Linked DNA regions of Homo sapiens: regions 1, 2 and 3 are each linked to region 4. Evidence: fine-mapped expression QTL. A gene starts in region 4. Each other region holds a variant in brackets. All regions are shown on one strand. Distances are between the middles of the regions. Region 1 overlaps STAMBPL1 (STAM binding protein like 1). Region 2 has its middle 8.2 kb from the start of ANKRD22. Region 3 has its middle 4.6 kb from the start of ACTA2-AS1. Region 4 holds the start of STAMBPL1 (STAM binding protein like 1).

Evidence for each region. PIP is the estimated chance that this variant, and not a neighbour inherited with it, causes the effect.
Region 1: its variant is the best candidate, but not a certain one, in a credible set for the expression of STAMBPL1 in whole blood (INTERVAL, PIP 0.77).
Region 2: its variant is the best candidate, but not a certain one, in a credible set for the expression of STAMBPL1 in whole blood (TOPMed, PIP 0.51).
Region 3: its variant is the best candidate, but not a certain one, in a credible set for the expression of STAMBPL1 in atrial appendage (GTEx, PIP 0.59).

What each region holds. Positions count from the first base shown.
Region 1 is chr10:88,911,517-88,915,516 of GRCh38, forward strand. STAMBPL1 (STAM binding protein like 1) reads left to right here. Exons shown (of 11, transcript NM_020799.4): 6 at 1,585-1,942; 7 at 3,018-3,142. Among named protein-coding and RNA genes, the nearest start is that of ACTA2-AS1, 19 kb to the right of the region's middle. The variant AATAC/A (reference allele first, on the strand shown) is at 2,254.
Region 2 is chr10:88,856,033-88,863,998 of GRCh38, forward strand. No RefSeq gene overlaps it. Among named protein-coding and RNA genes, the nearest start is that of ANKRD22, 8.2 kb to the left of the region's middle. The variant G/A (reference allele first, on the strand shown) is at 3,745.
Region 3 is chr10:88,924,146-88,932,111 of GRCh38, forward strand. No RefSeq gene overlaps it. Among named protein-coding and RNA genes, the nearest start is that of ACTA2-AS1, 4.6 kb to the right of the region's middle. The variant T/C (reference allele first, on the strand shown) is at 3,923.
Region 4 is chr10:88,876,349-88,884,314 of GRCh38, forward strand. STAMBPL1 (STAM binding protein like 1) reads left to right here and starts at 3,897. Exons shown (of 11, transcript NM_020799.4): 1 at 3,897-4,290. LOC124902551 reads right to left here and starts at 4,316. Exons shown (of 1, transcript XM_047426134.1): 1 at 3,386-4,316. The coding sequence starts at 4,074. The coding sequence ends at 3,547. It also overlaps the pseudogene PTCD2P2. RefSeq lists a silencer at 3,786-3,915 and enhancers at 4,496-4,605, 5,626-6,825.

The sequences.
Region 1 (4,000 bases), 33 kb after region 4:
TTAATAAAGAGTGAACATTATGATAATGTCTGAGAGGCAGAAAGGCATTGGAAGAAGAAATTGGCCAGTGAATGTATGGGATACTCACGTTCAACATAGCATCATTATAGATGTTATTTTGCTTTTTTGTTTGTGTTTTATTTGCTTTAGGGGTTACCACCTTCACTGACTCTCACTTCAGTTCAATCTCATCATCTCTGAGAATGCTCATTGAGCTTTTTGACTTTCTATGGGCATAGGTGGAAGGCTGGCTTGAGTGGAGAGTTTTAACGAAGTGGTAGAGGGAATGGTGAAATTGGAAATGTCCCTCAAGTGTGTATATTAATAATGTGACTTGAAATATGAAAGATAGAAATTTTCTTGGAGGGTAAGACAAAGCAACAACAGCAAGGGAGACGAAAGCCCAGTTCAAGTCTCCTTTCCACGGTCAGCAATGTGTATGATCTTCCTCTTCATGATCTTCCTGGGAGGAACAGGCTCTGCAGCTGTTGCATGTTTTGCCTTTGATACCAGTCACTTCATAGCCTACAGTGGTGACCCATGTGGGAATCTCTGTGGGTTTAGAATAGCAGGACTGAGCCTAGGAGAGATAAACAGCAATGCCTGTGAGCCCTTGCTTCACCAGCATTAGCATCATTTGGAAGCTTGTTAGACACGCAGAATCTCAGGCCCCACCCCAGACCTGCTGAATCAGGATTTGCAACTGCAATTAGCCCCAGGATGATTTGTATGCACCTGAATGTGCCACTATAAGCTGTGTCCCCCATGCTACCGCCATCTTACAGTAGCTCCCAAATCTAGTTTCTATCAAAATCACCTGAAAGGCTCATTAATATTTCATATTATCTGACCTAATAAGCCTGGATATTTTGTTAGAACTGGAGAGCTTGGGACTCCTCCTTTTTAGCAAAACTCTGGGTTAGTGGTGACAGAGAAGGTTGGAACACATTTTAATAACCATTTTTTAGTGATTCCTTCTTATCCATAAATTTCCAGCAGAGTATGAGTTCTAGAGTCAAATGCGAAAGGTTCTAGGGCAGCACTGTTCAATAGAACTCCTGTGATGATGGAAGTGTTCTGTTTGGCACTTTCCAATATGGTATCCACTAGCCACATGTGGCTTCTGGGTACTTAAATGTGACTGACTAGTGTCCCTGAGGTACTGAATTTCTAATTTTGTTTAATTTTAATCAAGTTCAAATAACCACATGTGGCTAGTGGCCACTATATTAGAAGTGCAGTAGGGGTGAGATATTTTGTTTCATATGGTCTTGTTGGTCTGACTGAGCAAACAACCTTGACGTTGATTTTCCAGTATTTAAAAGCATTAGGGAATGAAGGGATCCTGATTGTCATGGCCTGTCTCTGGTAAAATATCAGTGGATTTAGAACTGCTATGTTAATCAGATCAAGGGGCTTTTGCCCTGATGTTATGTATTTCTCTCACTGTTCCATGAGTGTCCCTGTGGGCATATCACAGTATCTAGCATTTTCTCTGTCTGCTTGAAGACTGAAAATGTCTAATTCCAGTTCAATGTTTCTCCTTGGAAACTAACCTTCTCTTCTGGCTGCCACACTTTTTAGAACAAATATAAAGCTGAAATTCTCAAAAAATTGGAGCATCAGAGATTGATAGAGGCAGAAAGGAAGCGGATTGCTCAGATGCGCCAGCAGCAGCTAGAATCGGAGCAGTTTCTGTTTTTCGAAGATCAACTCAAGAAGCAAGAGTTAGCCCGAGGTCAAATGCGAAGTCAGCAAACCTCAGGGCTGTCAGAGCAGATTGATGGGAGCGCTTTGTCCTGCTTTTCCACACACCAGAACAATTCCTTGCTGAATGTATTTGCAGATCAACCTAATAAAAGTGATGCAACCAATTATGCTAGCCACTCTCCTCCTGTAAACAGGGCCTTAACGCCAGCTGCTACTCTAAGTGCTGTTCAGAGTAAGTGATGAAATGCACCCATGTGAGACACTGAGCCTCATCGGATGGAACCATATTTCTATAGCATCTGGGAGGGTCCTTCTCATTTCATTATTAATTGTAGTAGGACCCCTGCATAATATGGTATGAATGAAAGAATTAACCTTTCAATACTCTCTAGCTTTTACTATATATAATCTTAAAATTCAGGAAATATGATGCCCCCGATAGAGCAGAGACTCTATAATAAATGGGAAGTATTTTGTCATTGACAGAGGTTTTAAATGAGAAGAATTTCAAGTACTTTTGTCTTCTATGTATTTTAACTAAGA[AATAC/A]ATACATCTTAAATACATCCATCTTTCTGGGGAGAAAAGGTGTGAGAAAATTGTTTATCTAGACCTTTGCTCAGCAATAAATGTTTATACTCAATATGTTTAGCATCATCCTTGGACTGAGAGAATCTCATACACATAGATAATTAACCTCCAAATGGACCGTGTGTTTCCGCAAGAATTAGTGCTGCTCAGTACTGCCAGATCAGTGCTGGCAAGTTTCCAAAACACAGAATTCTTCTTCGCAGACACTGTCAGATAGAATTTGTGTTCCCATTTATTTGAAATGAGCGATAATAGGCAACCATTTTGAAAGTTACTTTACTGCTGATTGTTTACCAAAACGTTGTGCTTTTACTTACTGATCACCAACTTTCATGAAGATAGAAGTAACATGATAAACACAATATTTATCTATGTCTTATAGGATATGAGATGCATTCTATGCAGCCTATGCATTTAACCCTATATTTGCTTCATGCCTAAAGATAACATAACATGTAAATAGTTAACCCAAGATACAAACATGTAAAAGTGCTTGTACCTTCTGATTTTGCTTATAAAATAATTTATATACATAATTTAATTTTACTTCTAGTTAATGTTTACTTCTAAGAGTTTTAAAATAAAATATGGAAAGTGGAACACCTGATACTTTTATTTTTGAAATTTATGTCCAACTGCAACTGTTTGCCAATAACAATTTTGAAAGATGGGACATATAGTTTGTTTTTTAGCCTTTTCTCCCTTTTTTGTTTCTTAGATTTAGTGGTTGAAGGACTGCGATGTGTAGTTTTGCCAGAAGATCTTTGCCACAAATTTCTGCAACTGGCAGAATCTAATACAGTGAGAGGAATAGAAACCTGTGGAATACTCTGTGGAAAACTGGTATGATCTTTTTATATAAATATATATATATATATATCTGCATAGGATACTTTTAATAGTACTAGATTTCTTCTGATAAGTGGAACAGAATAAAACCATGCTAAGAGTTATCAATATTATGAAATTAACGTTACACAGATTAACTTTATAAAACTATTGTCATTACTAATGGAATGATCCTTTTAGAAAATAGATTGTAAAATTTCAGAGACACTATAAAAACTTGTCCTAAAGAATCAACCTATAAATTAAATCTTTGATTAGAAAAATGGTACGAAATATAGGTCTTCAGATTTCCAAATCTATCTGGTTGCCAAATCAAATTTTCATTGTAATTGTTAGTTTCACATACATTCATATAATTAACTTCATCTGTGGCATGTATTATCTTGCTGTTCTTTTTCAGATACACGTGGAATAAAACTAGGATTTTGTAGTTTCCTTTAGTTTAAGGCAGTAGTTTCAACAAAAGCCTATAAGCACAGGACATACTTAATTATGGAAGATGTCATCATAAGTATGTGATGAAAGACAATGTCATAATAGAAGGGATGAAAGAGAGGAGATGCATTCAATTTCCTATCTACAACAGAGATAATGTTTCTTTGGACGTGTCCTTTCATAGTCTGTTTTGAGTACCAGTTTATATATCTGGGTCCAGGTATATTTTCAGTTCTCAAAATTTAGCTTAGGAACCTCTGCTTTATTGAATAATAATACATTGTATTCAGTACACAATCTCCTGCTGCATTCCAGTGTTTTGTCATCACTTTCCCTCCAAGAGATAGGAAGCCATTGGTGGCAGCACAGGAGAATGGGCATCTATAGTCGCCTCTGTTGCACTTAAGGGGACAGTGT
Region 2 (7,966 bases), 20 kb before region 4:
AATGCCTACCCTGGCATTCTGCAAGCTAGCTTTTTTTTTTTCCTACTGGTATGTGGAGACAAAATTAACTTCATCTTGGATGCTAATCCACCATGTTGACTTCTCATTAACCCCAGTCCCATAAATGCCTTCGGATTCCTACTTTATTTACTGTCCTTAGTGTAAGAACACATACTTACTGTAAATCCTGCCTTTAGACCAAAGCAAACTTGATGTTATCACACAAATATAGGTTATGATGCACACAGCACTCTTGCCTGTTCTGGGGGGTTGTCTTTAATTGTCTCTATAGAGCATGTATCCCCTTTCCTTATGATATATAAGCCCGGGGTCTGGGGTGTATTGGTGTGGAGATCTATTTGTCTTGCTACTGCAGGCCACACTTCTGTCTGTAAGTTCCCCCAATAAATTACCCTTTATCAAAAAACTGATTTTGTCTGCCTTATTATTTGGTTTCTTGGCTCCTTCCTTGTTTGGAGATTGCTTTGCATATATGACCCTTTCTTGAAACCTGGTCTATTTTCTAAGGAGCACTCCATGTGAGATTACAACGCTAAAGAGGGAGAAAGAGATCTACTCATTTCTATATGCTTGCAATCCTATCGGCCTCATCCCACCAATAGCTCTTCATCCAAGAAAAAGCAATTGATCGAGCTTATTTTCCACATTCCCAGAACCAGCCTATTTATACCTTTCAGAGGTGCCCAGCACTAATTGTTTCTCTCCCCGAACCCAAATTCATGCAATTCCTTCCTTGCGATTCTGAGGTATGAGCAGCTACCAAGAAATGGCCCCTCCTCAAGGCCTGGGGCCCAGAATTTCAAGGCCCTTTTCTCTCCTAAGTTCTAATAACCCCAACCTCACTCTGTTCCCTCAGTCCAAGGGGTGGTAGCTGTTCCTGCAATTCTATCTCTGTGTTACCTTAATATTCTCTTTTTACTTTCTAGTCTTCCAATACCTACTTAACCAATTCCAGACATTCAATTCTTTGTGTTTAAATAACTAGGTTGTTTTCTTTACTTAAGTTGGACTAACATAGTACTATGGAGATGTTTAGAAGCTAGAAATAACAGAATTATCCATCTGATATAAGATACATGGGAAATGGCAGAACAAGGATAATATGCATGTATCTGGCTTTGGAAATTTGGTAGATTTTTATCTTTCAAAGAAAACTCTGGAAGAGCAAGATTAGGGAAAGCCTGGGAAGAGATGATTAGCTCAGGTATGCACAAATTTTATTTAAGGAACATATTTCTAGCACACTAAGTGGAGATGCCAATAGAAAGCTTGTTATATGATTCTGGAGTTTTAGAGTAAGGGTTACACTAGAGATTAAGCTTTTTGAGGGTCATTAGCATTAGATTAATAATCCTCAATGTAAGAAATAGAAGAGTTGGGAAACCTTATTAAAGTTATTTTTTTCCTCTAAAACTTTGTAAAGTCCTTGGTTGTACAGAGTTATTTCTTCTTTAACTCACTCAAGGACATTTTTTATTGTATGCCTTTTAATGTTGACAGTTACTATTTAATTAAATAAGTACATTTGCTAATCAGGATGTTTATGTTTCTGAGTTTTAAGCATTGGAACCCTGCTATCTTTTTCTATTTTTCTCTTACTTGTGGAGGCTTTTTGATTTTGAATGTTAACTTTAAGTTAAGTACAGGAGTCAGAGGCCAAATTGCAATAGTAATTATTGCTTTACACTAACATAGGGTCTTTATTCCTTTTAAAAGGTAAACTGAGGCACAATAAAACTCTAAAGAGTTGATTTGAACAAATAACAATTCATGTATTAGACAGCACCAAACCAGAAGTGGTTTGGGATCTCTTTGGAGGAAATGCAAGGGGAACAAAGATGAACATGGAATTAAAGCAAAGAAAATATTTGATTGATTATAGTAATGCAGTTGCCTTATTTGGTTTATTCTGCTGAAAAGTCCCTAGCCATATGCTAATTAGGTGGTGACTTCTGATTAGCTAACTTTAAGTTTCCTTTTTCTTTAATATAGAGATTTAAAAGAAAAGGCCCAAATAAGTTTTGCTTATGTTTGCAAATCAAGCAAGGTTAAGGTCACTTATGAGGCCTGACTGACTTTGTGTGCTCAGGGATTCTTCAGGCCTGGTCTCTAATTTAATTCACTTTAACTCTCCCAAGACTCAAAAAATCTTGTAAAATTTGGAATCAATTTTGAATTTTCTAGTAACTAAGAAACTTTTTCTATGGAGGAGGAAATGGTATCAGCCAGTCCTTAAAATAAAAATATTGGCATTATAAGTTTAAATTAAAAATAAGCCACTTAATTGTTTACCACTTATGCAACACTTAATTTCTTGCTGTGTTCTATTTCTTTGTCATCCTCTACCATGTACTTGCAGCATTAGTTATTATCATTTGCTTTAATGAAAACACACAGAGTACATGTCATGATCAATGTCCCATAGTCATTGAAATGTTGTGATTTGTGTTTCTTAATTTATGAGATAATATATCTAAGACAAGGGAGTTTACATTTCTTGGTAAAAATAGAATAAGAAATAACTCTATTACTGATAAATCCTTACTGAGAAATCCTGTTGTGCTCGATGACTGTTTCCAGAAATAGTCACCTGCTTCTGCAAACTGTCCATTACTCCTCCAGTGACTCAGGAATTGTGTAGTAAAACCAGTTTCACAGTATGAGACAAGCTATACTTTTTATGGTATAAGTCTACTACTCTGACCTAAGATGAAGGGTGCTGCCTACTTTAAACTTTGCACTACATTTTTTTTCTTATTTCACGTGCCTTTTCAGGTTGAAAAAGAGATGTTGTATCTCAACTCCCTGGCAGGTCCTTAATGTTCATGCATCACATTCCACTCTGAGTCTATAAAATGTAGTCTCATATTTTCACAAGGTTTTGTCTGTTTATTTGTTTTGTCCTTTTTTATATATAATAAAGGGTTATTTGGACTGTGTTGGAGGGAGAAGGTTTGCTTCTCTTTTTAAATTAAGTTGTTAAGGTCATGGCAGTCTGCCTTTAGGTTGGCCAGATGCCTATCCTTCCTCTCTAAAATCCGACCTACTTCCCCGCTACTTCTTGGTAATACTCAGACCTTTTACAACCAACCTTTTATCATGAAATAAGGCAGCTATCCAAAGAAATACTATCACATACCTCATTATCAAATCAAAACATTCTTTCTTTTCCTCTATCACTCACAAATCCACCAAAACAAGTGAACAGAACCCATTCACCAACCTGAAAGAAAACATTCTATTCTGTCGACTTTAAAATTGCTTTGAAAGGACTAAGAATTGAGCATCTAAAAGACTTAAAAACTATAAGACTAAAACTTCATTCATGGCCAACCATTTTATAAGGCACTTATCATACTACTATAGAGAAGATTTTTTTCCATGTTCTTAGCCTCTTTTCTCCTCTACTTTACATTTCTTAACCCCAAAATTATGTTTTGAGCCAGGTGTATGATGCAGTATTTAAAAAGACTAATAAAACTGTGACAGAGAGAAATTCGGCTGACATTTAGTGTATAAGAGACATCACAAATCTTTATTTTTTAAATCAAATTATAAGTGTCTTGAGCCTTTCCAAAGCTTTGAAGAAATCCAGTATTGAACCAGTTTCCTAGGATTTCCTTTTCCTTGAGATGAGCAAGAATTCTTGGTGTCTGGCACTCAGTAATCTATGTATTTTCTCTATCATTGTCATTAGTATCATCCTCAGCATCATTGTGTAAT[G/A]TGCCTAAGAATAACTTGGGGGCCACACATGGTGGCTCACGCCTGTAATCCCAGCACTTTGGGAGGCTGAGGTGGGCTGATCACGAGGTCAGGAGTTCGAGACCAGCCTGGCCAACATGGTGAAACCCCATCTCTACTAAAACTACAAAAATTAGCCAGGCACAGTTGGCACACACCTGTAATCCCAGCTACTTGGGAGGCTGAGGCAGGAGAACTGCTTGGACCCAGGAGGTGGAGGTTTCAGTGAGCAGAGACCCAGCCACTGCACTGCAGCCTAGGTGACAGAGCAAGACTCATCTCAGAAAAAAAAAAAAGAAAGAATAACTTGGGGGCTTACTAAAATGTAAATACCCTCCCACCCCCCACAACATGAGAAGTAATGAATCAGAATCTCTAGGTGAGGATGTGGGAACCTGCATTTGAATAAGCATTCCAATAAGTGATTCAAAAGTTAGGGGTACTGGGCCACTTAGAAAAAAGACAATTTTTGATCTTTCCAACACAAAAGCCTAGAGAGGAAATAGCACAATGGGAAATTTCACATTTTATCTGGCTTCAGGTGCACTTTTGCACTTATATTTAAATGCGTTTGGGTTTGAGATTCTGATAATTCTTTACATAAAATTAATGAAGGTGTATAATGAATAACGTTCCTAATGTTACTCTTTCAACAGCTGTACTCATCTTTTGATGGGCATTTTTGGGGCCAGAACTGCCTGCTCATTTCTATTCCAGGCATGAAACTCAAAACAGCCCTTGTGGTAAATAACCCATGAAATATCAACAGGTTTGTTTGTGTATCTGAATTGCTACTACCAGGATTTTGACCTACTAAACTTCCTAGACACTATAGCTTTCTTCCTTGACCATTAATATGGGGTTGTTTTTTGTATTTTAACTCATACATTCTCAATGAGAGTAATATTGTTTTCCCAGGAAATGAAATTTCTTCTTGAGGGGAAAAAAGTCTATTATCCTTATAAACATAGCACAGATAGAAATATAATATGTAGGGGAGGGGGCAAAAAACTTTCTTCTGCCTTCTTTATGTTTAGCCACCAGGGCCCGTGAATCAGACTAACAAAAAACAGATTAACAGGAGAAAATTACAATGTTTATTCATTCATGCAACATGCGTACATGTGGGAGAGCTTGGTGATGAGTAACTCAAAGGGGTGGTTAGAATTTGGGGCTTATATACCATTTTAATAAGTAAAGGGATAAAGGCACTTATGGGAAACAAATGACTTTTTGGAAAAATAAATGCATTTGCAGGAGAAAAAACAGGCAATAAGAAAGTTTGTGAAAATGTCTACACAGGACAAAATGGTCTTTCATCTCCTTCAGGGTCATAAAACCCTCCTGGAGAAGAGATTTGGGGTAGGTTTTATTTTCTCTCTCTCTTCTGGGAGTAGACATGCCCTGAAAAGGATTTGTGACAATCTTGTTTCCCAGAAGTTGCTCCTTTAGTCAGAAAAGGGAAGCTTCAAAGTTGCTTTTTCTTTTTCCCCTTTTCTAAATTTGTTCAATCACAAATGTCTTCAACTTAAAATTATCTTTTTACCAATGTAGCATATTTTGGAATGGCATATTCTGGTTCCCTTCAAGTACATAAATGGATATACAGTATATATATACGGTAATAAAATTTATGGAGGAAGGATAATTTAAAAGAAAAAGTCTACAAAGATTCCTTGGTGGGGGACAATGAAAAAAGATTGAGAAATACTGCTTCAACTGATCCCAACTGATTTTCTAGTCTTTAAAATAAAAACTTTGAAATTTGGAAAATAGAAAAGAAAAAAAATTCCAAGAATTCTGCCACATACATATAATACACACACACATAGCATCTTCAAATATATAGATAGTATTTGTTGTACCAGAAAATAGTCTAACCCCTTTACGTGTACTAACACTTTTAACAGGGTCAACAATCCTGTGGGGTAGGTACTATTACCATCCCCTTTTAACAGATGAGAAAGCTGAGGCACAGAGACATCAAGTAATTTGTCTAGGGTCACACAGCTAATACATGGTAATACAAGGATTCAAAGCCAGGAGATTTAGCTTCAGTATCTATTACTTTAACCATTAAAGTATATGGCATCTCTTTGGGTATATAACCTAATCTCCTTCATATGGATATGTACACAATTTATGTATTTGCAAAAAATGAGACTTTGTGCACATTTTACAATCTACACTTGCCTTTTAAAAGTATATGACATCCTTCCATGTTATAAAATAGGCTTCAATATCATTTTTAGTGACTACCTAGCATTTACTTGATACTGATAGTAACAGTCCTCATTTATTTAGCACTCAGCATATGCTGAGCCCTCTGCCACGTGCGTAACACATATTGTCTATTCAGTCGTCATGATAGTCTCTTTAGATAATAATGAAAAATAATGGCTTTTTGGAATAACGTTTGTAAAAAATAGTAATAATGGCTAGTATTCATTGAGTGATTCCTGTTCACTGGACATAGCTCACGAACCTTATCCACATGGCACCCTTTAATGCTCTTTTACAGTAGCCCTAGAAGACTGACACTATTATTATTCCCTTTTTACTGATAAGGAAATTAAGACTCTGAGAGGTAAAATTATCTGCTCAAATGAACAGACATCAGGTAAAATTATCTGCTCAAGATGAACAGACATCATCTCAGACTCAATCTCAGATGCTTGCCTCTAAAGTCCTCCTCCGTACTATTATACACTCCTGCTCCCCCTAGGAACTGTAGTTTATTTCATTTGAATGAGCTTTATTCCTTAAACTAATGTAGACTTTCTGCTATCATTAATGGTTTCTCGGCTTCCAGACCTTGACTCGTTTTGGCCTCTAAGAACCATTGAACCATTGACACTCCATATTGCTAATTGTGATCTTGCACTCCCTGACCTTTCTATTATAAAATACAACTTAACCAGCTATTGTCCTGTTGCATTACAACACTGGTGTTATTAACACTATATATAAATGTCATGGTGGGCAAATTCACAGTTCTTAATCTTTCCCTCTCAGAGCAAAACCCCTCTGACACTGGCCCAGAGGCAAACAGCATGAGGCAGAATCCTTCACAGGTGTTCCAACAAGAAGGCTGAATTAGCTAGGAGCTGATGTGAGATTTTCTGTACATTTTCCCAGTCCTTCACCTCAGGGCTCCTCTCTCCCATGGCTCCTGATCACATAGAACAGGTGGAAACAATCATTAGTTCACCTCTGCCTCCTGGATCGCCAAGCACATCCAAGGGGCTCAACACTCAGCAGGTCATAACACTCAGATGTGATAATGGGGAGCCCTGCAGGCACGGCCACAGATGCTGAGTTATTTGGGTGAGCCGGAGTGGCAGGTGCTTCTCTGGGGCTTTGGATGTCTAAGACCAATATAGGACTTTGGTTCAAGCTCCTGCTCTGATCCCTGTATGAATTTAAACCTACTTAGGCTTCACTTTTCTCTTCTGGCCCTTGAACTCAAAGTTGTTTAAATTTACACCCAAATTGTATCCTAACCAATACTGCAAAAACGAGAAATGCTGTAGGTAACTAAAAAGAACACCAACTTCTTCGAAAAAAAAAAAAAGAGAGAGAGAGAAGAAGATCCCTTCCCTGGCTTTATCATTACAAGATTGATGACTTTGGGCATTTATTTGACCTACAGATTTCTGAACATCAGTTTCTTCATCTGAAAAGTGGAAGAATAAGCTGGGCACAGTGGCTTATGCTTGTAATCCAAGCTACTTGGGAGGCTGATGCATGAGGATTGCTTGAACTCTGGAGTTCAAGATTAGCCTAGGCAACATAGCAAGACTTTGTCTTTAAAAAAAAACCCATCAAATTTGCAGAACAGTGAAATAATAGTCATCAAAATTAGATGAACTAATGATTTGAAGTGTCAAGAACATGAAGAGTGTAGGAAATTGTCTGCAAAGGTGGCCACCAACAATTTCTCCCATACCTGTGCCTGCAGACTGCTCTTGCCGTCAATATGGGCTAGTCTTGGGACTTGCTTTGACCACTAGGATGTGCCAGAAGGGATGGTATGCCAGTTCTGCACCTAAATCTTAAGAGGTCTGCCAGTTTCTTTTCTGCCTTCTTTCGAAATCCAGCCACCACAAAAAGAAACCCAGGTTAGGCTACCAAATGATGAGTGGCCATTATCTTTCCCTGTCCTCCAAATTTTTCCCATATAATCAGAATAGGAGAAAGTAGG
Region 3 (7,966 bases), 48 kb after region 4:
GCAGGTGAAATCTTTATCTTGGAAGACATTGCTCCCAGGCACATTGGGAAATCCTGGGCTGACAGCCCTTTCCTTGATCGAGAAACTTGTGATCACTTCTTAGTCTCCCTTTTCATCCTTTAGGGCCTTACATTACTCTAGTCTAGCTTTCTTCTTTTTTCTTTTCAACGTTTAAGTTTCCTTCTCCAGCCATCTCTCCCTGGATCTCCACAACTTTTCAACAGGGCCAAACTAATCCTATGAAACCTTCTGTCTTCCCAATGTCTTCTGTGCCAGCCACAGCTCTCCCTGCCTTTGCTTTCCTCATGACATTGTATCTGAGTTGCCTAAACAACTCATGTTTCCATGTACTAGCTTCCACTGCTTAGTTCAATGATTTCCATATTCCAGAGTGGTATTTCCTGTACTCTGTGCTTGGATGGGTTAACATCTGATATGGTTTGGCTGTGTCCCCACCCAAATCTCATCTTAAATCATAGTAGGAGGGACCTGGTGGGAGGTAATTGAATCATTGGGGTGGTTACCTCCATGCTGTTCTCATGATAGTGAGTGAGTTCTCAGGATATCTGATGGTTTCATAGGGGGCTTTTTCCCTTTTGCTCAGCACTTCTTCCTGCCATTATGTGAAGAAGGACGTGTTTTGCTTCCCTTTCCGCAATGATTTTAAGTTTCTTGAGGCCTCCCCAGCAATGCAGAACTGTGAGTCAATTAAACCTCTTTCCTTTAGAAATTGCTCAGCCTTGGTCAGTTCTTTATAGTAGCATGAGAATGGACTAATGCATCAACCCTCCCTGCTTGTCTAGTTCTCAATTCTGGTATCATGTCACCTGAATTCTGTTCCTGTTCTCATTTATACAGAACCACCTACTATGGGCAAGTCAGTGGCTTGTTTCTGTTTCATGGAATCTTCTAGCTATGGAGAGCTCAGGTATCAGACTTCAGAAGTAGAGCTTGGCTTGCCTTGTGCATGGAGACTTTAGTCTATGGCCACCACTAGTTAAGAGCAGATTAACTCTGCAAGGCTGGCTCCATAGACACCTCACTTTTTCCTGAGTGGTGCTGTCCTCAGTGTCTTAACACTTAAACACACCATGATATTCTGATATGCTTGATCAAAGGAAAATGTTATATTCTTTATTCAAGTAAAAATAATTGTTGGGACAATGGATAGTTGAGAAATGAGTGAGATCCTTTGTATAGAATTAAAAATTATAGTAATACACTAAGAGGATGTAAAATGAGAGTTGTCCGATGAAAAAGCTATGGACATTGAATGGTGCCTAAAGATAGAAAGGACTCAGTTGAGGGCCAAGAACATTTAGCATCTTAGATTTCCAGAAAGACTAGAAAGAGAAGCTATGAGTATGCAAAACCATTATGTCCCTTCTGAATAGCAAACTAGAAGAGAACTCATTTTCACTAAGAAAGTATATTGTATTTCCTAAATAAAGGAGACATTCTTGGCACTTTTTTGTAGGTTTTTTTTTTTTTTTTTTTTTTTTTTTTTTTGCCAAGTACAAACCAAATTAACCAGGATCTCACAGAGTGGGACTGTTGGAGGCGGCAAACCAGAGCCTGACTTTGGCTGGCAGAATGAGGCCCTGGGGCTGTGTCTGAAAGAACCAACAGAAATGTGACCACATCACTAAGTAATGGACTGGTCGTGAGGCAGAGACCCTGTTAACCAACCTGGAGACGCCACTACACACACATGTGCATGAGCACCAGTGTTCATTGGATAAACTATCTATGGAAGGTCTCTTTCACAACAGGCAGACAGCACCTTCTCTTTTTTTGAGACAAGGTCTCACACTGTTGCCCAGGCTGGAGTGTAATGGCATAATCATGGGTCACCGCAGCCTTGATCTCGTAGGCTCAAGCGATCCTCCCATCTCAGCCTCCCGAGTAGCTGGGACTACAGGCACTCACCACCACACCTGGCTATTTTTTTTCTATTTTGTAGAAATGAGGTCTTGCTGTGTTGCTAGGGCAGGAGATCCTTCTTTTGAATATGAATCAGTTCCAAAGCTCCATTTGCCACATCCTAAGGCAAAGATGGTTCTTCATTTCTTTTCAGATTTGTGTTTCTGTAGAAAAAAAAGAAACAATTAAGAACTTCCTTTGATTTTCAGTGCTAGTCAGTTTGCACACAGTGCCTGACACCTCATGTGTATTTGTTATAGGCTGAATTGTGTCCCCCAAATTCATGTGTTGAGGTCCTTAACCCCCCAATACCTCAGAATATGACTGAGTTTGGAGATAGGGCCTTTACACAAATAATTAAGTTAAAATGAGGCTAGTAGAGTGGGCACTAATCCAGTATGAGTTGTGTCCTTATAATTAGAGATTAGGACAGACATACACAGAAGGAAGACCATGGGAAAACAGAAAGAAGACTGCCATCTGCAAGCCAAAGAGAGAGAGATCTCAGAAGAAACCATCCCTGCCAAAACCTAGATCTCAGACTTCCAGCCTCCGGAACTGTGAGAAAATAATTTTCTGTTGTTTAAGCCATCTGGTCTGTGGTATTCTGTTTGGCAGCCCTCACAAACTAATGTAGTATCCGGTAAATATTTGCTGAAGTTGTTTGTTTCCTTTTCTCTTACAGACTGAATTGGAAATGGCTTTCTTTGTTGTCATGCAGGGCAGAAATCATTCTTTCCATAGGCCTTGTCAGTTGTAGAAGAGCAAAGCAGAATGTTTGTGGATTATTCTCAGCTACTCAAATTGTTCCTAGTTTCTTTTTAGTAGGATTTTGCTTGTGGAAATTTGACATTTTATTTGGCGCCACACTGGTTCACTTCTGTTTTCTCCCAATTCATTTCACATTGCAACCACATCAACTGTGTTGGAGACTGTGTTATTACAATGATTTGACCTTAGGTTGAGGTTTCTGTTGCAAAACCAGCTGAGGAGGTCCTAAATGTGGAAAGCAGATGTTTCTCTTCTGGCATGTCTTGCAGAATTATCTGGCAAGAGAATATCTTCTGTGAAAAGAATGCGTGAGAAATGTCATGCATTTGGCAATGATTAAGAAAGAAAGGTAAACCTTCAACTCCTTGTTCTTAAAAGAATTTGGCTTGTTATTTACTGGGAAGACAACTAAGATGCAAAGAGCTTTTCTGCTCTTTGCAACAAATTTCTTAAAATTTGTTTTCTTTTCTACTCTTTTGTTCTTCATAAGGCCAGAATATATTATCTCGGGGAGAGCTGATGAAAACATGACTTAGTGGCTCTTAGAGATTTAGCATACTGATGTCCAAGAAGACGTTGTTGTTTTTTAAACTATCAAAAGGCAGGCCTTCATTTGGACTGCTACAACAAAAATACCATAAACTGGGTGACGTAAACAACACTGTATTTCTGTCACCCAGTTCTGGTGGCTGGAATTTGATATCTGGGTGCCAGCATAGTCCAGTTCTTGATGAGGACTCCCTTCCTTATTTGCAGATGGCTACCTTCTTGCCCTACCCTCAAATGGGGGAGAGAGAAATCATCTCTCATGTCTCTGCTTATAAGGACACAAATACTATCACGAGGGCCTGACCCTACCTTCATGACCTAATTATCTCCCAACGCCCAACGACCCCACCTCCAAATACCATTGCAACGAGGATGAGGTTTCAGCATATTAATGGCGGGGGCACCAATATTTGATCCGTAACTATGCGAGTGCCAACTAGCTAGTTTCTTGTCTTTTTTCAGTGCCATATGGAGGCTCTGCTGTACATCTTCTGAGATCCCATAGTTACTATATTAAAAAGTACCATTCTGATGAGAATGTGAATAGCTTTTATTATATTACCTTTGATCTGGTGTGAAGATGCCTTCAAATAGATTTAAGAAATTACTCATTAAAAGGATATTTTTCAAAAGGAATTGCCAGTTGATTAAATAATACTAGGTATTAAATTTTACCTCA[T/C]GGAAGAACAAACTTGTTTGACAAAAAAACATTTCTTAATTAAAGCCATATATTTTCATATTAGTAATGTTGCTATATAATTATAATATTTTTAATTTTGTAATGTTTTTATAATTAAAGGACTTAGTAAAATCCATATTCCTGTATATGTTTGAATAACCAGACAGAGAAATGGAAAAGGGAAAGAAAATCCAGGGAAGGGAATATTATTTAGAAAGGAAGCCTGTGATACTCTTAAGGTCTGTCACTACAGCTTGCTGGACTTCAGGATGGGGATAGGAGATGCAGAAGACAAGAGAGGAAAAAACAGAGAAGGACTCTGGGGGAGGGAAGGTAGATTAAGAGCATTGCAGACTGGCTTTATTTAATTTGTTTGTTTGAAGTAAATGCCTTGACATTATCTGGACGACAAGACATTCTAAAACCAAATGGAGATAATTAGATTTTTTTTTCTCAATCAAGGAGCATTACCCGTGCATCTCTATCAGGTAAACAAGAGATGGCAGTGAAAAATTACAGTTGTTTACATGAATTATTCATTGTCTCACTGGGTCCCAGATGTACCAATGGAATGCATGGTGAATTCATATTCTTGAGCCTGAAGAGGAGGTTTAAAAATTCTCCTTTGCACTTTTTCCAAGAGAAAAAGGCATTTACAGATTGATTTAAAAAGAAAAAAAGCTCAATTATGTTTCCTTCTAATATAAAGGCTGACAAGGAAAGCAAAGCAAGCAACTAGAAGACATTTGCTGTGCTCTTGACTTTGGGAAAGACCATGGGCAAATTATATCACTTTTAGGAAATTTAATTTCCTTACCTACAGAAATAAGGCATGTGAATCAACTGATTCAGCAGGCTGTCTTCAGCAATAAAATTTTGTACTTATCAAGGTTCTTTCCAAGGCAGTATGTTTTTTATTTTTAAAAAATAACTTATTGAAGCTCAATTCACATAACTTAAAATTAACCATTTTAATATGAACAATTTAGTGGCATTTAGCACATTCAGTGTTGTGCAACCACCGTCCCTATCTAGTTCCAAAAGATTTCTGTCACTCCAGAGTAAAATCCCTTGTCCACTGTACTAGTCTGTTTTCACCCTGCTGATAAAGACATACCTGAGACTGGGTAATTTATAAAGAAAAAGAGGTTTAATGGACTCACAGTTCCACTTGGCTGGGGAGGTCTCACAATCATGATGGAAGACGAAAGGCGTGTTTTACAGGGCAGCAGAAAAGAGAGAATGAGAGCCAAGTGAAAGCGGTTTCCCCTTATAAAGCATCAGGTCTCGTGAGACTTACTACCACGAGAACAATATGGGGGAACCACCCCCATGATTCAATTATCTCCCATTGGGTCCCTCCCACAACATGTGGGAATTATGGGAGCTACAATTCAAGATGAGATTTGGGTGGGGACACAGCCAAACCATATCACCCACTAAGCAGTTGCTCCCCTTCCCTCCCTCTCCCCCCCAGCTCCTAGCAACTGTCAATCTGCATTCTATATGGATCTATCTATTTTGGATATTTCATACAAGTAGAATTGTACAATATGTGAGCTGTTGTGTCTGGCTTCTTTCACTTAACGTATCATTTTGAAGGTTTATCCATGTTGTAGTATGTATCAGTCCTTTATTCATCTTTATGGATGAATTATGTATATAAATTTATGTATATACCACATTTTGTTTATTCATCCGTTGATGGACATTGATGGACATCCATTGATGGATATTGATGACATTTTGTTTATTCATCCATTAATGGGCACAATAACCAAAAAGACATTTCCTTTTGGTTATTGTGAGTAGTAGTGCTATAAACATGCATGTACATGCATTTGTTTGAGTACCTGTTTCAATTCTTTTGGATCTACACCTAGAAGTGGAATTGCAGGGTTATCGGTAACTCTAGGCTTAGGTTTTTGAGAGACCTCCAAACTGTTTTTCACAACAGCTGTACCATGTTATATTCCGAACAGCAACATATAAAGTATCTGATTTCTCTACATCCTATTACAGCCATCCTAGTAAATGTAAAGTAGCATCTCATTCTCCTTTTGACAGAGCAATATGTGATCAGCTTAATTCCTCTAAAGTCAAATTTCAGTAGTAAAATAAAGTTGATGATGAAGATGTCTGAGGCCTCCAGAATTCACTCACTCCAATCACTCTCTTAGTGTTGTGGGACACCAGTCCTGACTCTTTATCAAGGTCACTAGCACCATGTTTAGAGGGAGAATTTATTTTTATCAAGGATAGTCAGGTCAGCTGTTTCAGCTGGGTAGGATTAGAAATACAAAGAGAGAGCAACCAACAAAAGGCACTAGTCATGGCACTTTAGAATACTACTCTTGCTTTCCATCAAAGTCAGTGGTTTAAGCATTCATAAGGAAGAATACTATGTTGAGGCATCTCTCTGAAATCACGGACTTTTTTAAGTCTTAAGAGCAAGAGCTCATGTTAAATTTGAAAAATAGAATTTACTTGTTTAATATATTTTTGCCTGAGTAGGTGATGTCATTTTTTTTTTTAAAGGAAGGCCTGAAGTTACATGATTTTAGGTCATTTTGTAGGGAATTTCAGGTTATGGCATATGCAGAGAGGTCTTAAAGGAAGAAAAATAATTGATTCAATGAAGGGACAGAGGACTAAGGCTCAAAACTAAATGTGCAGGGAAAGAAACAGAAGGCAAGAACTAAGAAGAGTATAAAAAGAACACCTTTTGATGTGGTGTGTCTGCAATACCACATACTTTTCTCCAAGGATAAGGAAATCTGCTTAAGGACCCCTGAATTTTAGGCCTCTGGAAAACTGTCATTAACCTCACGATACGGAAGCCTGTTCCATCATCAGTTTTCCTTGAGGATAGCATTGTTTCAAACCCAGACAAATAGTAATCATTTTTATTCCCTTTAGCCAAGAAGGGGCTAGAAATTGCTCTAAGGAGGACATTCTGGGAGAGCTACAGCCTCCATGAGTAAATTAGACTGAGAGGTGGCAATGTTTGCATGTTCATTTCCCAGATGTGAGATGAATAATTTAACCTGAAAGGTGAAATGCTCAGGAAAAGCAATAATTTAACCTGAAAGGTGAAATGCTCAGGAAAAGCAGATGGTCCAGAGATGCCATACTTCTCATGCAACATTGCTTCCATTGCTTGAAATTGGTGTCTGATTTTTTCATAGAAAAAATGTTATGAATATTACTTTGGAAAATTGTAGTGAAGTCATGGTCACACTTGTGTGTGTGGTCCAGTTCTTTGGGGTTCTCTTTTTCCCAGGTATGCAGCACTTTTACATCTCTGGGCCTCTGCTTGGAACACATCCCATGCAGGTCCTACTTCCCCTTCCCAAACCTTAACCCCTTCTAGCCCCCAGCCCTTTTTTTTGTCTACTCAATTCTTACCCTTTAAGCTTCTGCTTAAGCACTATCTTCTCAGGGAGGCAGCCTCTCCTGAGCTCCTGGCTCAAGTTAGAGCCCATGGCTATAAAAGCCAGTACCCCATATAATTCTTCTTTTGAACCCCTGACAATGTACCCAACTGCTTATTTAGTGCCCATCTTCCTCACTTGGCTGCAGGTTCCATCCAGGCAGAACCTTGCCTAGTTCTATTTCCTTGACACTGCTCTCTGTCCTAGCTCATAGTGCTCTTCAGACATTACTTAAGTTGACTCTGCTCTCCCAGGAATAAACATTACTTCATACTCTGAAAAGGAAGAACCCTATCTCAGGCTGCCCCATTTTCTCTCCCTCTCTCTTTTTTTTTTTTTTTTTTGGCTGTCTCTTTCTGAATAAACTGAGCTGCGCTGCAGCAATGGCTTCTGGTTGCCTGCAAGTGTGTGTTGGTCCAGACAGCCTCCTCCCTAACTACAGTCAGACGTTCTTCTCCAAGCTGTTCTGTTAGAAATTCTTCTAAAGAGAATTTCCTAGCTACACAAATGATACCACATTAACAACAGAGGATTATTATTATTATTATTATTATTATTATTTTGAGGCGGAGTTCCACTCCTTTTTGCCCAGATTGGAGTACAATGATGC
Region 4 (7,966 bases):
AAAAAAAATCCTATCTTTTAAAAAAGTCTGGAGTTGGTATAGTCTGAGACAGTATGGCTGCGGCATTTTGGTCCTCCAGATGAGCTCTTCTGCCAGCGCTGCAGATTTCAGTGTATCCCGGGATGAGAGGCTCCGGCTCCACCTGCTGCCACTGTCCTCTTGGAGCAAAAAGATATCTACTTACAGATAATATTATGAAATTAAAAGAATTTCAGCATAAGAAGGTGGCTGTTGAATATAATCTTCCTGGCACCAAATAAATCTATTTTAGAAACTTGGAAGAGAAATTGAACTAGAACAAGCTCATCTTGAAGGGGAAGTTGAGAACCCTACTTCATTTGCGTGAGTCCTGGGACCATGTGGAACTGGCTAAAAACATCATTTGCAAGTACCATACAGAAAACAAAAATGTCACTTTGGCGGAATTTAAGTTTGGACCACTTTTCATAAGACTGTGTTACGACTCGAATCTTGAGGAATCTGCAATGGAGCTCAGGAAAGATGAATATTTACAACGGTTCTCAGACTCCACACAATTTACTATTTTGATGGTTATGTTATTTATCAAAAGCAAATATATAAGTGCTTTGGAAATATTGACAGAGATGAAAAACCCAGATGGAAAGTTCACCAGGATACCTATGTTCTTGATTTTGCAATTGGCCACAAAATGAATAGCTCTGAATCTTTCTAAGTCTGTACTACATTAAGAAAAGAAGCCCTAATCAAAGGAGTTCTCTCCAGGAGAGCATCCTGTTTCCTGTGACATCAGAACCAGGTGGCAAAAGCTATGTCCATTTTTTCTCACATCATGAATCCAGAAAGCATAAAGTTTACTAATTTAAACATGATCATCCATATCCAGTCAAATATGTTAGCAACTGTGATGGAGATACTAAAGGGCGTTGCAGAAGGAAATGTATCAAGATTCGTTGAAAGACGTGAGTTCTCAGAGGAACTGCTGGCCAAAGTGAGGAAAAAAGGGAAAGTTGCGCTTGTCTTTGTGGCCAGATTTCATGAGATGTATGGAAAACTGCACATCGTTGTCCAGGTCACCACTTACACTTTGGATGTTCTGCTCTGCGACATCCGTTTAAAAATGTAAGGGACGGGAAATCCCACATGTTGCCATAAAACAACAGGATGGTCACCTGTTAGACCTTCCAGGCACTGGGCCAGTCCCTGTTGGCTGAGTAAACCCTAGTTTCAATCCACCTGTGGGTATGAAGACCTGCTTCCAGTGAGTTATTGGCTTCCCTAAGAAGCAGGCATCGCACTTCAGCAGACACTACAGTGACACTTGATTTCCTCCCTAAAATCACTGAATGGTGGCATGCTGCTCTCTGAGAAGTTATGTCGTGCCACTGTGAAGATCTAGATACAAGCACAGAAAGCTCAGCTCCCTCAGAAAGCAGGCTTCCCCTGTGCACACTACTGAGGATCCGTGAAGGAACATGGTCACTGTCTCCAGTCCAGCTTCCAGTACTGGAGTGGAACCCAGTAGGCACTATCAGGAATGAATTTCACTACAAGTGTGGTCAACTCTGATTTTCAAGGGAGTAATTACTTGCAAATTATACCCTTGCTGAATTCAGGAGGTCCGAAACCCTGTTCTACCATATCAGAAAATAGCCCAGGATTTCCTCACTGCTCTGCCTTCATGTATTCTGTAACTTGAGCCCTCATTTTCTCATCTGCAAAATAATAGTGCTTATGTGTATTTGCATATAGATTTGAAATCTTCATTCAAGGTTTAGTAGGGTAAAATTGTCTCAAAAATAAGAGAAACAAAAGTTCTGGAGCAAAAAGAAATCTGGATTTTAAATTACTATTGAGATTGAATCTTTAAAAATGCAAGTAAAACTATAGGTCACTTAAAAATTCTCTAAGATAAAAGTTGTATAAATACACTGGTGCTTGCTCTTCATTAACTCAATTAATAAAAGGGAAATAAATCACACCTAAAGTTGCTATATCAGAGTTCTTGGTCACAACGCTGAAATCATTTCTGGCTAACTGAATCAGAAGAGAAATATATTGGAAAGTCGTTAAGTAGCATACCAAAGAGACAGGAAGTTTGGCAAATAAGTCTCCTTACACAGGAAGGGAAGCTTAGCAGCTGAAATTACAACAGGTGGGTCATCACACCATTCAAATAGCTCACTTAGGACACCACTGACATTGCCGCAGTGTTACCTCTGGCACTACTGTCCCTGAACACAAAACCCACTTCACAGATAATGGAGACATTTCTAAAATGTTTCTTCTTGAAACACATAATCCAGATTCAAATAACTGTACAGGAGTCTCTGAGGCTGATGTTGGGTCACAAAATGGTACTCTAGCCGCTGGGGAGCAGGGGACGATGGGTATTGGGCCATTTTGGCTTTTATGAGAATTTGGATGCTAGATAGCAAGACCATGATCAATGACCACTCTAAATACGTACGTGGAATTTTTTGTTTCATAATGCTTTTTAGGAATCTGGCTAACCTTCTTAATTACCACTGAATTTTAAATTGTCCAGTAGGTCATGAGATTATCTGGTTCAATACTGCAAACTCAAATGCCTACCATATTCTCAAATGTCAGTGAGGTGGGGGTGTATGGGAGTGGTGGGGACTGTGGAAAACTGAAGAGTGTCTTCACAGTCTAAAGGCGACACCTGCTATTCAGCTTCAGCTGATGGTTGCTAGAACTCGCCATGGACCAAATGTCTGATGTTACGATTTTACAGAAAATGTGAAAAGTCTGAATTTCTGTGAAATTTCCTAACTTCAACATTTGGAACCAACTTAAAACTAAGCAAAACAACACTGTTGCTTCTTAAAAATCAAGGCTGCAGGCTGCCTCCAACAATCAAACTCTTCATTTAAAAAAAAAAAAAGAATCCAGGGAGATGAGGCTTAAGAAGGTGAAATGCTTGAGACCAAATAACTCAGTTGGTGGCTGAGCCAGGGCTAGAATTTTGGTTTCCAGAGGAAAGGCTAACTAAGAAAAGCCAGTGTTTCCCCACCCCACTCTGCAGCCATTTCTCTCACTTGGAAGTAAGCTCCCAACCAAGCTCAAGAAAAGCGACTCTATTTCATCCAGCAGCAGCAGTCTCCATAAAATGTTTATCAGTTAATAGAACCTGTGAAGCCAATAGAAACAGCTTTCAGTGTTGGATCAGAGTTTAAATTTCAGCTTCTACTGCTTTCTAGGTGAGTAACCTGGGATAAATTATTTTACTTCTCTGTCTCTCGTTCATGGAAAAAACAAAAACAAAAACAAAAAATGAGTCCCTTTTATATACAGGGTTGTGGCAGATGGACTAAGATTTTGTGTACCGACTGCCTGACACAGTGCCAGAACTGTAGTAAGAACACCACACGTGATAGTAACATAACATCCAGGAGATATTCTAATACTTCTTATTTTCCAAGTACACACAAATTGGGGGTAGGGGGAAGGGCTAAGATGCTTAATAGTGGGCGTAGCCAGTTGTGGATAAATATCAAAAAGGGAATCCTAACATGAAGTATAAGTGGGATTTTCACCAAAACCCTATCCTTCCCCAGACTCCAGTGACAGTTTAACGGTCAGCTGCATCAAGGCTTGTGTACTGTGCAGTCTTAAAAGGCACCACTCCTGTCCATCTCGGTGAAATTGATGGTGGAGCAAAAGGGAGTTTAGGTGGTTCCGGTCTGGGGAGAAGACGTGCAGGGTTTCAGATGCGAAAGTCGCACCCAACCGCTTCACTCGGGCTCTAGGCCATCCGCAGGGGCCCTGCTTCCTTCCACCTGCGAGCTTTTTCTGCAGAATGCGGGAAGCCGCCGCCGCCGCCACAGAGGAGGGGGCGGAGGCAGAGGCGGAGGCGGCACCCAGGGGCCGGGGCAGGGGAGGCCGGGACCATCGCAGTGACAATTTATTTTCCTGCAGCAGCGGCAGCAGGGACGGTTGCTGCAGGTTCGGGGTCGGCCGGCCTGCGCGTGGGCTTGCGAGGACGCTGTTCGTCCCCTGCGCTGGGGTGTCCGACAGCGAGGAGGAGAACGACGCACGGAGCCCGCGCGACTGGAACCAGCAAAGCTCCATCTGTCGGCAGAGGAGAAGGGGGAGGAGGCACGGCCGAGGCAAACGAGCGGACGCCTCGTCGCCGGGTGCCGGTATCACCCCGCTGCAACGCCTTCCAGCAAAAGCCACCGCGGCCCGGGTTGCAGCAGCCGGACGGATGCCAAGGCCACACGGCAGCCACGGGGGCAGCCGTCGCAGTCGCCGTCCCACACGGGCTGCGGACACCAAGGGTTGCTAGTGAGTAGCGGCGCGCGCGCGTGAGTGAGAGCGCGCACCGGACGGGGAAGTGCGCACGGCGGGTGCGTCTGCCTCGTGGCCTGGCGCGCGCCGGCCCTTCCGCTGGCAGCGTCCGGTCCCGGGCTGGCTCTAGGGGAGGAAAAAATGCACTTTGGCGGCTGATCGCTTCCTTCCTGCCAGTCATGCAATCGGCCGCCTCCATCGGCGCCGCCTGTATGCGCCCCTCCGCTGGGCCCTCTGGGTTAGTTTCACCTTGATAGGGAGGCAGGAAGACCTGGCTGCTGGTGGCAGGGCGGGACTCTGGCCGTGACCTATACGTGGGTGCGCCTGTTTTTTTGGTTCAGCCCTGGGTTGCAGCCTTGGAGATGATGTCGACCTTGGGAGAGACCACTGCACTGTCTCTAGCGGCGCGGTGTGGAGGAGGGAGGGGCGAGGGTTAGAAAAACGGACCTTTACCCCGGCCGAGCAGGTGCCATGCCTTTCCAGATGATGTTACTTTTATGCCCTTTATGAGCGACTAAGACATTGCCCCTCACCTGAATAACTTAAAGCTTTCGCTGAAAGCCCCCAGTGAGATGCACAAAGAAATGGAATGTCTCCAAAACATATTTTTTTCAGAACTTTCTCTAAAACAACCCACGCTGCTGATACCCCCAGAGCCTAAGGTGCCATAATTGCTGAAGTTTAAAAGAAAATTTATGTAAGGAATAAGTAATTCAGGAAACGGAACCCAATCTAGAGGTTTGAAAAAAAAAATCAAGTGCCTGGGAAGTGGGGTGGGGTGGCTTGCTTCCTGGAAATCAGTGTTCGGTAGTAAGTAAAAAAGACAGCTTTCAAAGTAAGCCCCAGTGAGCACACTGCTTTCCAAACATCTTGCTCATTACTGACAATAACATGAAGTCCTGGATTTTAAGCTATTTCCGAAGACATAATAGATATCACTAGGATGCTTGTTTATGGTCTCATGATTTAAGGCCCTGTCAAGGTCAATAACGTAGATTTGTTCCAGCAGATAAATTATACCTGAATGTTTGATTGTTCGTGTCAATTTTTTTGAGGGTAGGTTTTGACGGTTGTTTTACACAGAAATTAAGCCACCGTGTTTTGTTTTTATCCCGACCTTGTTTCCATTGGAAATTTTGTGTTTTCAGGATGGATGCTACATTGCACTTCAAAAATATACTCTGCCACTGGATTGTAGTGGGCATTGTGTAGCTACACTATACATATCTTTATTTTTAATACAAGTTAATGTGTCGCTGAGCAGTAGGCTCTTTTTGTTTACCATTTGCACCATGAGAGCTTCTCCATTCAAAGGCATAAAATGTTATTGGAATCTACCTGCAAAATGAATTGGCTGATTGTTTTCTGTTCAGACACAGATACAGCAAATTGCCACTAAGAATCTGCTTTTGCGTATACGTTGGCTGTAATTTATGTAGCAACTGGTTCTTGGGAATTTCAAGAAGAAACTTGTTTTCTTATCCTCACCTATAAAGTAAGCACCAAAATTTAAATTATAAGGCAGATAACCTAAGTCCTTTACCTCTATCTCAACCTTCAAGGCCTGTTTCTTGGTACTCTTGCCCTGTTTCATAGGATTCTTACGGTTTGTGGGAGGCTTGGAGGGAGTAGTGAGGAACCAGTTTCCTGAGGATGTCCTCAATAGAGAGATTTGCTTCTGGAGGAGAGAGTGTCTTTGGGGTTGATTCCTAAGAAGGACTGATAAAAATAGTTATAAAGAATTGTTAGTAATAGTTCTCTCTTCTTACTTTCAGCACATAGGACTTAATTAACACCGTTTGATCATTTCCTTCCTTTAGGACCCTTCCCAGCTGTAAGAATTTACAGCTACAATCCAAGAAATGAGATTGCATTTTACAAGAAAAGAAAACTGATGATTCTTGCCCAAAACATGAGAAGTAGAAGGAATGTGAGAGAAAATAATGTAGATTCCGTCCAGGAAGTGCTAGGTGCTTTCCTGGTGGGTACATTTACAAATTAGGGACATTTTAATTAATCTACTGGATTTGTGATTCTGTCTGCTACTATCTTCTTTTTCTTGACCTTATGAAAGATTTATAGATGGCTTCAACTGAAACTACAGGAAATGACTCATGGTTATCCCTGAAGATATTAGAGCCAGATTTCCATTCCTTAGGGCTGATGCATAGCAGCTCTTTGATAAATATTTGCTAAATAAATGACAAATTTTAGAATGTCTTTTTATTATTATTGTACTTTAACTTCTAGGGTACATGTGCACAACTTGCAGGTTTGTTACATATGTATACATGTGCCATGTTGGTGTGCTGCACCCATTAACTCGTCATTTACATTAGGTATATCTCGTAATGCTATCTCTCCCCCCTCCCCCCACCCCACGACAGGCCCGAGTGTGTGATGTTCCCCTTCCTGTGTCCAAGTGTTCTTATTGTTCAATTCCCACCTATGAGTGAGAACATGCGGTGTTTGGTTTTTTGCCCTTGCGATAGTTTGCTGAGAATGATGGTTTCCAGCTTCATCCGTGTCCCTACAGAGGACATGAACTCATCCTTTTTTACTACATCACCTCTTCTGCTATTTTTTAAATCATAACTTTATATGAATCACCAAACATTTCATCAAATTGAATCCCAGTTCATATAATCAACTAAGAAGGCCAACATCCTCGATTGAAGAAACAGTAACAAAATCAAAACAAAACAAAAACAAAACTCTAAAACAAAACTAAAACCAACAAAAAATACTATTGGTACCTGTTGACTTGCTTATTCCACCTATCTGAACATGTGAACTGTCCAATTGAACGTGTGAATGTACATTCAGAAATCCTGAGTTGACATCAGAATGTTCAACTCAGGAATAATCTGGATGTAGCTACATCTGGATGTGGCTTTTGTCAGAAATTATTTGCATTTCTAAGCAAATCAGATTAACGTCTAGTACAATCTTCCATCTCTGCATGTCAAGTGGACAGGCCAATTTAACATTTGGCATACTGCTGAGTCTTCAAAACACATATTGTTTGATGCTCTAACTTTTAAATTAAATCTGTGTTATTTTTTTCCATTGATGTGGTTGGCTTAGAGACATTAATTTGACTGGTGGTTGCTTAGTAACTTGTGTTTATTAAAAGAAGTCCCTTGATATAAACACCAGTAATTCTTATGTCTTGATTTGCTGTAGTTAACCTTTCAAGGTACTCTTTTGGAAATGGGTGCATTGTCTTGAATATTAAGGATGTTATGACTCCTTTTTTTTTGTTTTTGTTTTAGTTCTGACTTTCCATCTCCTGTCATTAGAAAGTCTCCCAGTTATTCAGGTTCCACTTTCAGGATGACAGATTAGAAAGCTATCTGAAATTTACCTGGATATTAACTTTCTAGTGGGTAATAATAATGCAAATTTTATTCCTGAAATTCTTCCTTTCATGTCCTTCTCTGATCAAGCTTGTTTCATTCTGAATGAAAGTCAAATGAGATTCTCAATTTATTTTAAAAAATTGGGCTATGTCCAAAGATAAATACATAAAAGTAAAATATTATGTAAAATAAAAAACTGCTTATCACTGTTCTGAAGTAGCACAAACACAGCTATTCTCTGCATAATGAAACGTGGCCGTTCCTACCAAGTATTTATTTGACAAGTAGGCTCTTAAGCACTTGAACAGAAG